Regions from separate parts of the Homo sapiens genome. Here region 1 is linked to region 2. Evidence: fine-mapped expression QTL. A gene starts in region 2. The other region holds a variant in brackets. All regions are shown on one strand. Distances are between the middles of the regions.

Region 1 (5,376 bases), 6.5 kb before region 2:
AAAGGAAGACCTCCTCTCCCCCTCCCTGCCGCGTTTGTCCTGTGTATCCCCCTACAAGAATGCATATGTCTTGCCTGCAGGTGGCCTTTTTAAACTCAGCTTTAGTCAGTGCCGAGGAGGAGCAGCAGGCACAGCTACATGGGCAGCTGAAGGAGCAAAGGGTGTGTTGCCAGCACCTGGCTCACCCAGTGGCCTTGGCCCAGAAGGAGCCAGAGGCGGCAGCCCCAACCCCAAGGACCGGGGGCGATTCCGCGTGTGGGGAGACCCACCGGGCTTTCTCCATGTTGGCCAGGCTGGTCTTGAACTCCTGACCTCAAGTGATCTGCCCTCTTCGGCCTCCCAAAGTGCTGGGATTACAGGCCTAAATCACCACACCCAGTCCAATGAAGACTTTTTTACAATTTGCAGTTCAGGCTGTGGAAAATTTGAGCTACAAATTAGCAAGAGTTTACTCTTCACATGAATGTTGTCAGATTCATCTTTTAATAATTGGTGTTTATATTTTCATTTAATGTCATCCACTTTTCTACAGGGTATGGACAGTGGATTTGCAGGTGGAGAAGACAAAATTTATAATGTTTACGATCAAGCCTGGAGAGGTGGTAAATAAAGATATGGCCCAGAGTATTTATAGGTCTGGTAAAAACCTGGACAAGGATATGTATGGTCATGACCTAGAAGCCAGAAGAAAGACCAACAGGTATCAAGCCATACAACTCTGTTTCAGTGTTTACACCAGTGAAAATAAAGTAGTTCATAGTCTTTTCTCTTGTTCCCTAGATTTGTTCCCAACAAGGAGTTTTTCAGACCATAGACAGAGAAGCCGAGAGGCTGAGAAGGACCAGTTCAGTTTGAGGAAGATTCTTTTGATTTGGACACATTTTTGGAAGAAGCCAGACAGCATGGTGGCCCTCAAAGACCCTCAGCAGCTGCCCCAGAGAACATGAGCATGAAGGCAAGAAGAGGAGGAAGGAGCAGACACACGTCTCTTCAAAGCAAATGAACTGTGATCATCCATAACCCTAATGATGCAAGTGCTGTGGCACGACACTTTGTGAATGGTCAGGATACAAACCAAATCTGGATTCTACTTTTTATTATTGGAGAAGGCAAGGGTGGGGAGGGGGCGGGGATAGAAAATTTTACTTTGAATTATTTAGTTTTTTTAAAGAGTGGGTTGTATTTGTGCTTCTCCCACCTTTCAGCATTTGTAGAACATGCTGGCCCACATACACAATCAAGACCACTTCCTTCTGTGTGACACTAGCAGTTCGGGTTAATATTTTGTGTAAGAACAGCTGCTTATGAGTCAAGTCACCCCAACGGCAGTGAGGAGGAGGATGTTCACATATTGGTACTGTCCTGCCAAATAAATGTGGCCCCTGTTGCGCTGTGTTTTAATTCGGAGTGGGGAAAAGAAGCTCTTGCTTTGTTTCAAATGAAAACCTTTAGACAAAATTCTCGGTTATGTTTCCTTTATGTAATAGGCTGGGAGAGTCTCAAAAATCTTCCTCTTCACCAGATGTTTGCAAAACTTTAGGCCTTTGAGCTTGAACCTGGAGCTGGAAAAAAATAAGCACTGTAAGGAAGGAAAGGCAATGTCTGCAAAAACATTCGATCTGAAAATCGCCTTTTTATGAGGGAGTCAGTGAAAAGAACTCAGGCAGTTTTTATGTGCACCTTGTTCTTTTATTTGTTTTCTCCTCAAACTCCCTTTACCATCTTTGTTGTTCCTATGACTCCCTCACCCTCCATTAAAAATTGTAAATTGGGCAAGTCACAGTGGCTCAGTCCTATAACCCCAGCACTGTGGGAGGCTGAGGCAAGAGGACAGCTTGAGGCTAGGAGTTCAAAACTAACCTGCAGCATAGAAAGGCCCAGTCTCAACGAAAACAAATAAATTAAAAAATAAAATATAAATCAATCTGGCCCAAGATCGCATAATAAGCAGGAAAGGCAAGATTTCAGCCCCAGCTTACCTGACTTGAGAAGTGCGCTGCT[G/A]TGTGCACTGTGTTCTGTATATCTTGCTAACAATTACAGGTCTTCTTGTACTTCTCCTTTAAAACTGGGAACTCTTCCACCCCAGCATTCTAACAAGCATGAAGGCAGCTTCAGTTACAAATCTCTCAAAGTCCCCATCGTTCCACATTTATGATCTATTTAATTGATACATAATCAGATAGTAGCTGCATGTATATCATAGATGTATCTGGTATACAAACAGATTGACTTGACTCCATCTAGAATATGATTTTCCTGTTGTAGTGCATTCTGAAGTTCTTCTGAAGAAAACTGAACCCAACCCGAACCTCTGTGAAAGCCAGTCTCCTTGTCCTAGAACTTCAAAATATGGGAAAAGATTAATCATGAACTTGAGAAAGTTTCCATGAGCTCCAAATCAAACTGCCAAATTTTTCATCGGCCACAATCGGGTTGATTATTTATTGTTTGAGACAGCGTCTCGCTCTGTGACCCAGGCTGGACTGCAGTGGTGTGAACATGACTCACTGCAGCCTCAACTTCCTGGGTTCAAGGGATCCTCCCACCTCAGCCTCTTCAGTAGCTGGGATCATAGGTGCGCACCACCATGCCTGGCTGATGTTTTGTATTTTTTGCAGAGATGGTGTCTTGCCATGTTGCCCAGGCTGGTTTCAAACTGCTGGGCTTGAGCAATCCTCCCACCTGGGCCTCCCAAAGTGCTGGAATTACAGGTATAAGCCACTGTGCCCAGCCTCAAATCAGATTCCAGACATTTAGAAATGTCAGCAACCTTGCTTCATACCCTTCCTCGTTACCCAAGGCTAAATCCCTATGTTCATGAACTTACTCTGTTTTCCTCACTGCCATAGAAAAGATATGGGTAATGAGTTTCTGTGTCATTCTAGATGCAAACCATATTAACAGTAATAGCCAAGGGAGATTTTGATCAGAACTCTTGTTTCTAACCTCATTTCTAGAAACTAGAAAATTAGGCCTCAAAACCTAGGCGCACCTATGATCATTTCTGAGCCCAGTCACCCTCAACACCAGCACTACCATCATCACATGTTCCTAATGATAAACAAGAAACGACAACATTTAGCCCTTACTTAACCTCGTTACAGACTTCTGGTTAATTTAAACAATTTTTTACTTTCCCTTTGTGCAAACGGAAGACTTCTTTGCTTTTCTGAGATGGAGTCTCGCTCTGTTGCCAGGATGGAGTGCAGTGGCGCGATCTTGGCTCACTGCAACCTCCAACTCCCTGATTCAAGCTATTCTCCTGCCTCAGCCTCCTGAGTAACTGGGATTACAGGCATGCACCACCATGCCCAGTTAATTTTTGTATTTTTAGTAGAGACGGGGGTTTCACAATGTTGGCCAGGCTGGTCTCGAACTCTTGGCCTCAAGTGATCTACCTGCCTTGGCCTCCCAGAGTGCTAGGATTACAGGTGTGAGCCATCGCTCCCAGCCTTCATTACCACAGCCCTTACAGTGCCGCAAAGAAAAAAACAGTTTCAGTGAGGTATGTGTAAACTCTGTGTACTCACATCCCACCCTAGAAAGCCCACAAAAAAATACAGCCCAGGATAAATGTATAGACTGACTTCTAAACCCTCACAAGAAAGCTAAGGAAATGTAATTAATGTAAAAATAATGTTTCATTAGTTATCAATCTAAAAAAGGTACTCAATGAAGATAAAACTGAAAATATTCTCTGCTGATTATTAGACATCTATTAGAGATCATTAGCATACTATAGTAGGCAGAATTCTAAAGTGGGTCCCGTGATCTCCACACATTCCCCATGTTACACCTTATACACTCCCCTCGTTTTGAGTGTAGGCAAGACCTGACTTGTTTCTTGTTGTTGTTGTTGTTGAGATGGAATCTCACTTTGTCACCCAGGCTGGAGTGCAGTGGCGCGATCTCAGTTCACTGCAGCCTCCACCTCCCGGGTTCAAGTGATTATCCTGCCTCAGCCTCCCTAGTAGCTGGGATTACAGTTGGTGGGATTAGCCACCACGCCTGGCTAATTTTTTTTGTACATGTTTAGTAGAGATGGGGTTTCACCATGTTGGCCAGGCTAGTCTCAAACGGTTGACCTCAAGTGATCTGTCTGCCTCGGCCTCCCAAAGTGCTGGGATGGGAGACCTGACTTGTTTCTAACCAAAAGAATATAGCAAAAGTGATGGGATGTCACTCCTGTGTTATGTTCTATATAAGATACCATCTTAGCAGACTGGAGAAGCCCTTGCTGGCTTTAAAGAAGCAAGCTGCCATGTTGTAAGACAGTCTACAGATAAGCCAGGCAACAAGGAGCTTCAGGCAGTCCCTAGGTGAGAGCAGCTCCCAACTCAGAGCCAAAGGTCATCAAGGAAACAGACTTCAGTCCTACAGTTAAAGATGAATTCTGCCAAACACGCTGAAGGAGCTTGGAAGTCAGTCTTTTTCCCCAGTTGGCCCTTTGATGAGACACACTACAGCCCCAGCTGACACCTGGATTATAGTGCTGTGAAACCCTAAGAAGAGGACCCAGCTCAACTGTGCCCAGCTGTGAGATATGTGTTATTTTCAGCCATTATGCTTGCGGTATTTTGTTATACAACAATAAAAAAGCTAACACAAATACCTATAAAACTTTTTTATTTTTTAATAAGTATCACTCAAAATGTTATCAATAGACTTTAGACCACACACAGTAGCTCACGCCTGTAATCCCAGCACGTTGGGAGGCCAAAGCTGGAAGATTGCTTGAAGCCAGCAGTTCAAGACCAGCCTTGGCAACATGGCAAGACCCCCCCCATCTCTATAAAAATAGGCCAGGCACAGTGGCTCACAGTTGTAATGCCAGCAGTTTGGGAGGCCAAGGTGGGTGGATCACTTGAGTCCAGGAGTCTGAGACCAGCCTGGGCAACACAGTGAGACCCTGTCTCTATAAAAATAGGCCAGGCATGGGCCAGGTGCAGTGGCTAGTGCCTGTAATCCCAGCACTTTGGGAGGCCGAGGTGGGCGGATCACGAGGTCAGGAGATCGAGACCATCCTGGCTAACATGGTGAAACCCCGTCTCTATTAAAAAATATAAAAAATTAGCCAGGCACGGTGGCGGGCACCTGTAGTCCCAGCTACTGGGGAGGCTGAGGCAGGAGAATGGCATGAACCCAGGAGGCCGAGCTTGCAGTGAGCCGAGATAGCGCCACTGCAGTCTGGCCTGGGCAAAAGAGTGAGACTCCATCTCTAAAAAAAAAAAAAAAAAAAAAGATTGCAATATATGATAATCATTTTTAAAGTATTTGATTAAACCTGATAGGTTTTCCGGAAATGGAAAAAAAAATCCATTTTAAAACCAAGCTGATTTTTAGAAAATTTCAAAATGTAAATCAGCCCTATCCAGA
Region 2 (5,376 bases):
AGGGAACTAGGCCCGGCGTGGTGGCTCGCTCCTGTAAGCCCAGAATTTTGGGAGGCCGAGGTGAGCGGATCACCTGAGGTCAGGAGTTCGAAACCAGCCTGGCCAACATGGCAAAACCCTGTCTCTACTAAAAATACAAAAAATTAGCTGGGCATGGTGGTGCGTGCCTGTAGTCCCAGCTACTCAGGAGGCTGAGGCAGCAGAATTGCTTGAACCCGGGAGGTGGAGGTTGTAGTGAGCCCAGATGCACCATTGCACTCCAGCCTGGGTGACAGAGCAAGACTCCATCTCAAAAAAAAAAAAAAAGTTATGGAAAAAACTTAGGAAGAAAAAGTTATGGGATAAAAAAAGTCATGGGATAAAAATAAAAATAAGGCTGGGCGCGGTGGCTCACGCCTGTAAGCCCAGCACTTTGGGAGGCTGAGGCAGGTGGATCACCTGAGGTCAGGATTCGAGACCAGCCTGGCCAACATGGAGAAACCTCATCTCTACCAAAACTACAAAAATTAGCTGGGAGTGCTGGCGCATGCCTGTAACTCCAGCTGCTCCAGAGTCTGAGGCAGGAGAATCGCATGAGCCTGGGAGGCGGAGGTTGCAGTTAGCCAAGACAGCACCACTGCCCTTCAGCCTGGGCAACAGAGTGAGATTCCGGGGGGGAAAAGAAGGAGTGTAATGTAATGCCTCACTCATCTTCTTTAAGCAGCAGTGGGAGTAAATCCCACCACTTTAGGGCAACCTCCATCTCCCACTGCAGCCAAGATTCAATCTAAGGGCGTTAGTGGGAAGAAAGGCTCAGCATAAAATACCATATGAGCTCTCAAAGTCCAGTGTGAGCATAGCGTGTTTTTTGTTTTTTGCTTAACCTTGTATTATACAGCTTTTCAAACATAGAAACGTAGGGAGAAGTTCAGCAAAGTGGCATGTGCCTGTATTCCAGCTATCTGGGGGGCTGAGGTGGGAGGATCACTTGAGCCCAGGAGCTCAAAGCTGCTGTGAGCTATGACTATACCTCTGCACTCCAACCTGGGCAACAGAGCAACACTCCATCTCTAAATAAAGACGTAGAATACTAAAATGCAATAAACCCCCATGTACCCATCAGCTTTAACAATTAACAAATGGCCAATCATTTTTTAATTTTTTTATAGACATGGGGGTCTTACTGTGTTGCCTAGGCTGGTCTTGAACTCCTGGGCTCAAGCAATCCACCTGCCTCGGTCTGGGTTCACAGGCGTGAGCCACCGTGCCTGGCCCAATCTTTTTCCTGAATGTTCCTACATCTCCCCCTGGGTTATTTTAAAGCAAATCCCAAACATATTTTAGTTTTTTTTTTTATTTTTTAAGAGACAGATCGGGCCAGGCATGGCGGCTCATGCCTACAATCCCAGCATTTTGGGAGACTGAGGCGGGAAGATCACCTGAGGTCAGGAGTTCAAGACCAGCCTGACCAACATGGAGAAACTCTGTCTCTACTAAAAATACAAAATTAGCTGGGTGCGTGGCACATGCCTGTAATCCCAGCTACTCAGGAGGCTGCAGCAGGAGAAACGCTTGAACCTGGGAGGTGGAGGTTGCAGTGAGCTGAGATCGTGCCATTGCACTCCAGCCTGAGCAACAAGAGCGAAACTCCATCTCAAAAAAAAAAGAGACAGAACATATCACTGCACTCCAGCCTGGGTGATAGATAAAGCCAGACCTTGTCTCAAAAAAAAAAAAAGAAAAGAAAAAACAAACGGTGTCTCACTCTGTTGCCCAGGCTGGGGTGCTGTAGCATGATCGTAGCGCACTGCAGCCTCAAACTCCTGGGCTCAAGTGATCCTCCTGCCTCAGCCTCCCAAGTATCGAGATTAAAGGTGCCCACCACCATGCCTGGCTATTTTTTATGTGTTGTAGTTGACCAATCTTATCTCAAACTCCTGGCCTCAAGCAACCCCCCGACCCCGACCTGGACCTCCCAAAGTGGTGGGAATTAGAGACATGAACCATTACTCCTGGCCAAATTATTTCACCTGTAAAAACTTCAGTATGTATCTCAAAGAGATAAGGACTTGTTTTTAACAGAAATACAAGCCTGTATGACATAGAAATACAAAAAATAATAATAACATAGAAATACAATACCTGGCCCAACGTTGTGGCTCACGCCTGTAATCCCAGCACTTTGGGAGGCCAAGGCAGGCGGATCACTTGAGGTCAGGAGTTCGAGATCAGCCTGGCCAACATAATGAAACCCCGTCTCTACCAAAAATACAAAAATTAGCCGGGCATGGTGGCACTCGCCTGTAATCCCAGTCTACTCGGGAGACTGAGGCAGGAGAATCTCTTGAACCTGGGGCGGCAGGGGGGTTGTGGCGCGGAGCTTGCAGTGAGCCGAGCTCCTCCACTAGGCAAAAGGGCGAGACTCTGTCAGGAAAAAAAAGAGAAGAAAAGAAATACAATACCCGAAAAGTTTTAGTAATTCCTTAAATCAGTTATCTTTGAATTATTATCCAAAAAAGATCCACACATTGAAACATTTTGTTGATACATCTCTTAAATCTCTTTTATTCTGAAGTGTTTTCCCCTCCCACATTTCCCACTTTGCCATTTTTTTGAAGACGACAGATCATTTGTCCCATATAATTTCCTACATTTTGGATATGGTTGATTTCATACCTTTGGTGTCTTAACATATTCCTGCTAATCTCTATATAGCCTATAAACTGGTAGTTAGATCTTGAGGCTTGATTAGGTTCAATTTTTGGCAATAGGTGATGCTCTGTATTTCCTATGCATCTCACCAGGAAATGATATGATGGTATGATTGATCAGAGTTGAGGTATTGTTAGCTAGCCTGATGCATTCATTATGTCTTTTTTTTTTTTTTTTTTTTTTTTTTTGAGGCAAGGTCTAGCTTTGTTGCCCAGGCTGGGGTGCAGTAGCGCGATCGCAGTTCACTGCAACCTCCGCCTCCCTGACTCGAGCGATTCTCCCACCTCAGCCTCTGGAGTGCTGCGACCCCAGGCGCCGCCACCTAATTAATAGACGCGTTGCCTCCGTTTTTCAAATGTCCCTTTCAGGACGCCGTCCCCTTCCTGGTACGCGAAGCGCTGGGAGCGAAAGGGACTTCCGGGAGATCTAGGAAGTCGCTTCTTTTTCTGGTAGAAGGCGGGGTTCTCCTCGTACGCTGCGGAGTCTCTGCGGGGTGTAGACCGGAATCCTGCTGACGGGCAGAGTGGATCAGGGAGGGAGGGTCGAGACACGGTGGCTGCAGGTCTGAGACAAGGCTGCTCCGAGGTAGTAGCTCTCTTGCCTGGAGGTGGCCATTCATTCCTGGAGTGCTGCTGAGGAGCGAGGGCCCATCTGGGGTCTCTGGAAGTCGGTGCCCAGGCCTGAAGGATAGCCCCCCTTGCGCTTCCCTGGGCTGCGGCCGGCCTTCTCAGAACGAAGGGCGTCCTTCCACCCCGCGGCGCAGGTGACCGCTGCCATGGCTTTTCCCCATCGGCCGGACGCCCCTGAGCTGCCTGACTTCTCCATGCTGAAGAGGCTGGCTCGAGACCAGCTCATCTATCTGCTGGAGCAGGTCAGTGCTTGCCTGACGCCTTTATCGCATCTACAGTTTAGCACTCATTGGATGCACATTTCTTCCTTGCCGTGCCCCTTTGATCTTGTTCTTGGCCCCTGGTATTGTCCTTGGCGCTTCCCCAGCAGGTCCAGAATGAATCCAGGGAGTAGTAAGAGCTGTTTGGAACCTGGCCAGAGAGTTAATGGAAATCACCCCCCAACCCCGCATACAGGCAAGGGAGACACCATTAGTGCCAGGCATCCCTAGGGACGGAAAGATGGTTAAGACATCTTTGCCATTAGGGATCTTACCACTCCAGTAGGAGCTGTATGAAGCACAAATTATCACACACAGGTGGTAAATGAGTGATAGAGCTAGTGTACCCGAAGAGTTCACAGTAAGTGATCATTTCTAGTTGGGGTGATGATCTAGGAGCTTCAAGGAAGTGAGTGTGAGTAATAAGCATATTTTCTTTGGAGACTAAGCATGCTCCAGGCAGATAGATTGGTAGGAGCAAAGTTGGCAAACCAGGGAAAGACAAGGCATGTAAGGGAAGACACCCATCAGCAGTTACACAGTAGCCACTGAAAAAAATTTTTTTTCCATTTGTGGCATGAGACAATACTTGATGATTCTAATAGTGATGTGTGTGGTGGCGTAAATGGGCAACAAGAAGGCCAGTTAGGAGACCGTAGATCAGACAAGAAATAAAGGCCCACACAAAATTGGTAGCAGTGGGAATGAAGGAAAGTGATGGATTTTTAAGTTATGGTGAAAGAAAACTCAAAGACTTACTGATTGGTTATAAATGTTGAAGGAGAAGCAAAAATGAGTGAGATTTTTAACCTGGGTTATTAGGAAAATAATACTGCCACTGTGATTTTAATGGATTACTTGTGTAATCATTTAGTTATTCATTTTATGTCTGTATTCCTCATTAGACTGGAAGGTGGGCAGGGATCATGTTTGTTTTGTTCAACACTACCTAGTGAGTACCTAGCTTAGAGTCAAGCACACACCATGTGCTTAATAAATATTTGTTGTATTAACATTGAATAGAAATGAGAAAAATAATTAGAAAAAGGAACAGGTTTGATGGGGGAAGTTGATTTGTTTGGGTTTGGATGGGGGAAGTTAAGATGCCCGTAAGAAATATAGCTTGTAACATCCAGCAGATAGAAATGTAGAACTGCAGCTGCATTGTGAGGACTGGAAGGAAGATGGATCAAGATGAGAACTGCAGGGCATCTTAGACCAGATTTTATTTCTATTTTATTTTATTTATTTTTTTGAGACACAGTCTCACTCCGTTGCCCAGGCTGGAGTGCAGTGGCGCGATCTTGGCTAACTGCAACCTCCACCTCCCGGGTTCAGGCGATTCTTCTGCCTCAGCCTCCCCAGTAGTTGGGATTACAGGCGCACGCTAGCCCACCTGGCTAATGTTTGTATTTTTAGTAGAGATAGGGTTTCACCATGTTGGCCAGGCTGGTCTCAAACTCCTGACCTCAGGTAATCTGCCCGTCCCAGCCTCCCAAAGTGCTGGGATTATAGGCTTGAGCTACCACTCCCGGCTTCTTTCTCTTTAATACTTAGTGCTTGCACAGTGACATGCACATAAAAGACTTGCAACAATGTCTGAAGAATTTAAAAGAGGTGCTAGTTAAAGCCACTAGTTCAGGTGAGATCAAGTAGAGGAGACCAAGAAGAGAAACTTGAGCCCACTGGGTGATTCAGCATGGCCAAAGTGGATTTCCAGGCAATAACGTCCTCTCCTAACTAACTTCTGACTTAATTTTTGTTAATGTGCACTGCTATTCAGCTTGAAATATCAG

Direction of the effects. Alleles are on the strand shown, and positions count from the first base shown. SD is a standard deviation of normalised expression in the study named.
With allele G in place of A in region 1, the expression in esophagus muscle of the gene that starts at base 3,094 in region 2 is higher (small effect, 0.35 SD a copy in GTEx).

Evidence for each region.
Region 1: its variant is fine-mapped to the expression of VPS33B-DT in esophagus muscle (GTEx, PIP above 0.99).

Annotation. Positions count from the first base shown.
Region 1 is chr15:91,026,845-91,032,220 of GRCh38, reverse strand. VPS33B-DT (VPS33B divergent transcript) reads right to left here. Exons shown (of 4, transcript NR_110104.1): 3 at 1,980-2,340; 4 at 1,082-1,562. It also overlaps the pseudogene LOC390638. Among named protein-coding and RNA genes, the nearest start is that of VPS33B-DT, 6.9 kb to the right of the region's middle. The variant G/A (reference allele first, on the strand shown) is at 2,002.
Region 2 is chr15:91,020,340-91,025,715 of GRCh38, reverse strand. It overlaps VPS33B-DT (VPS33B divergent transcript), which reads right to left and starts at 3,094. Exons shown (of 4, transcript NR_110104.1): 1 at 2,976-3,094; 2 at 1,745-2,403. VPS33B (VPS33B late endosome and lysosome associated) reads left to right here and starts at 3,122. Exons shown (of 23, transcript NM_018668.5): 1 at 3,122-3,562. The coding sequence starts at 3,467. RefSeq lists enhancers at 3,158-3,567, 3,422-4,038.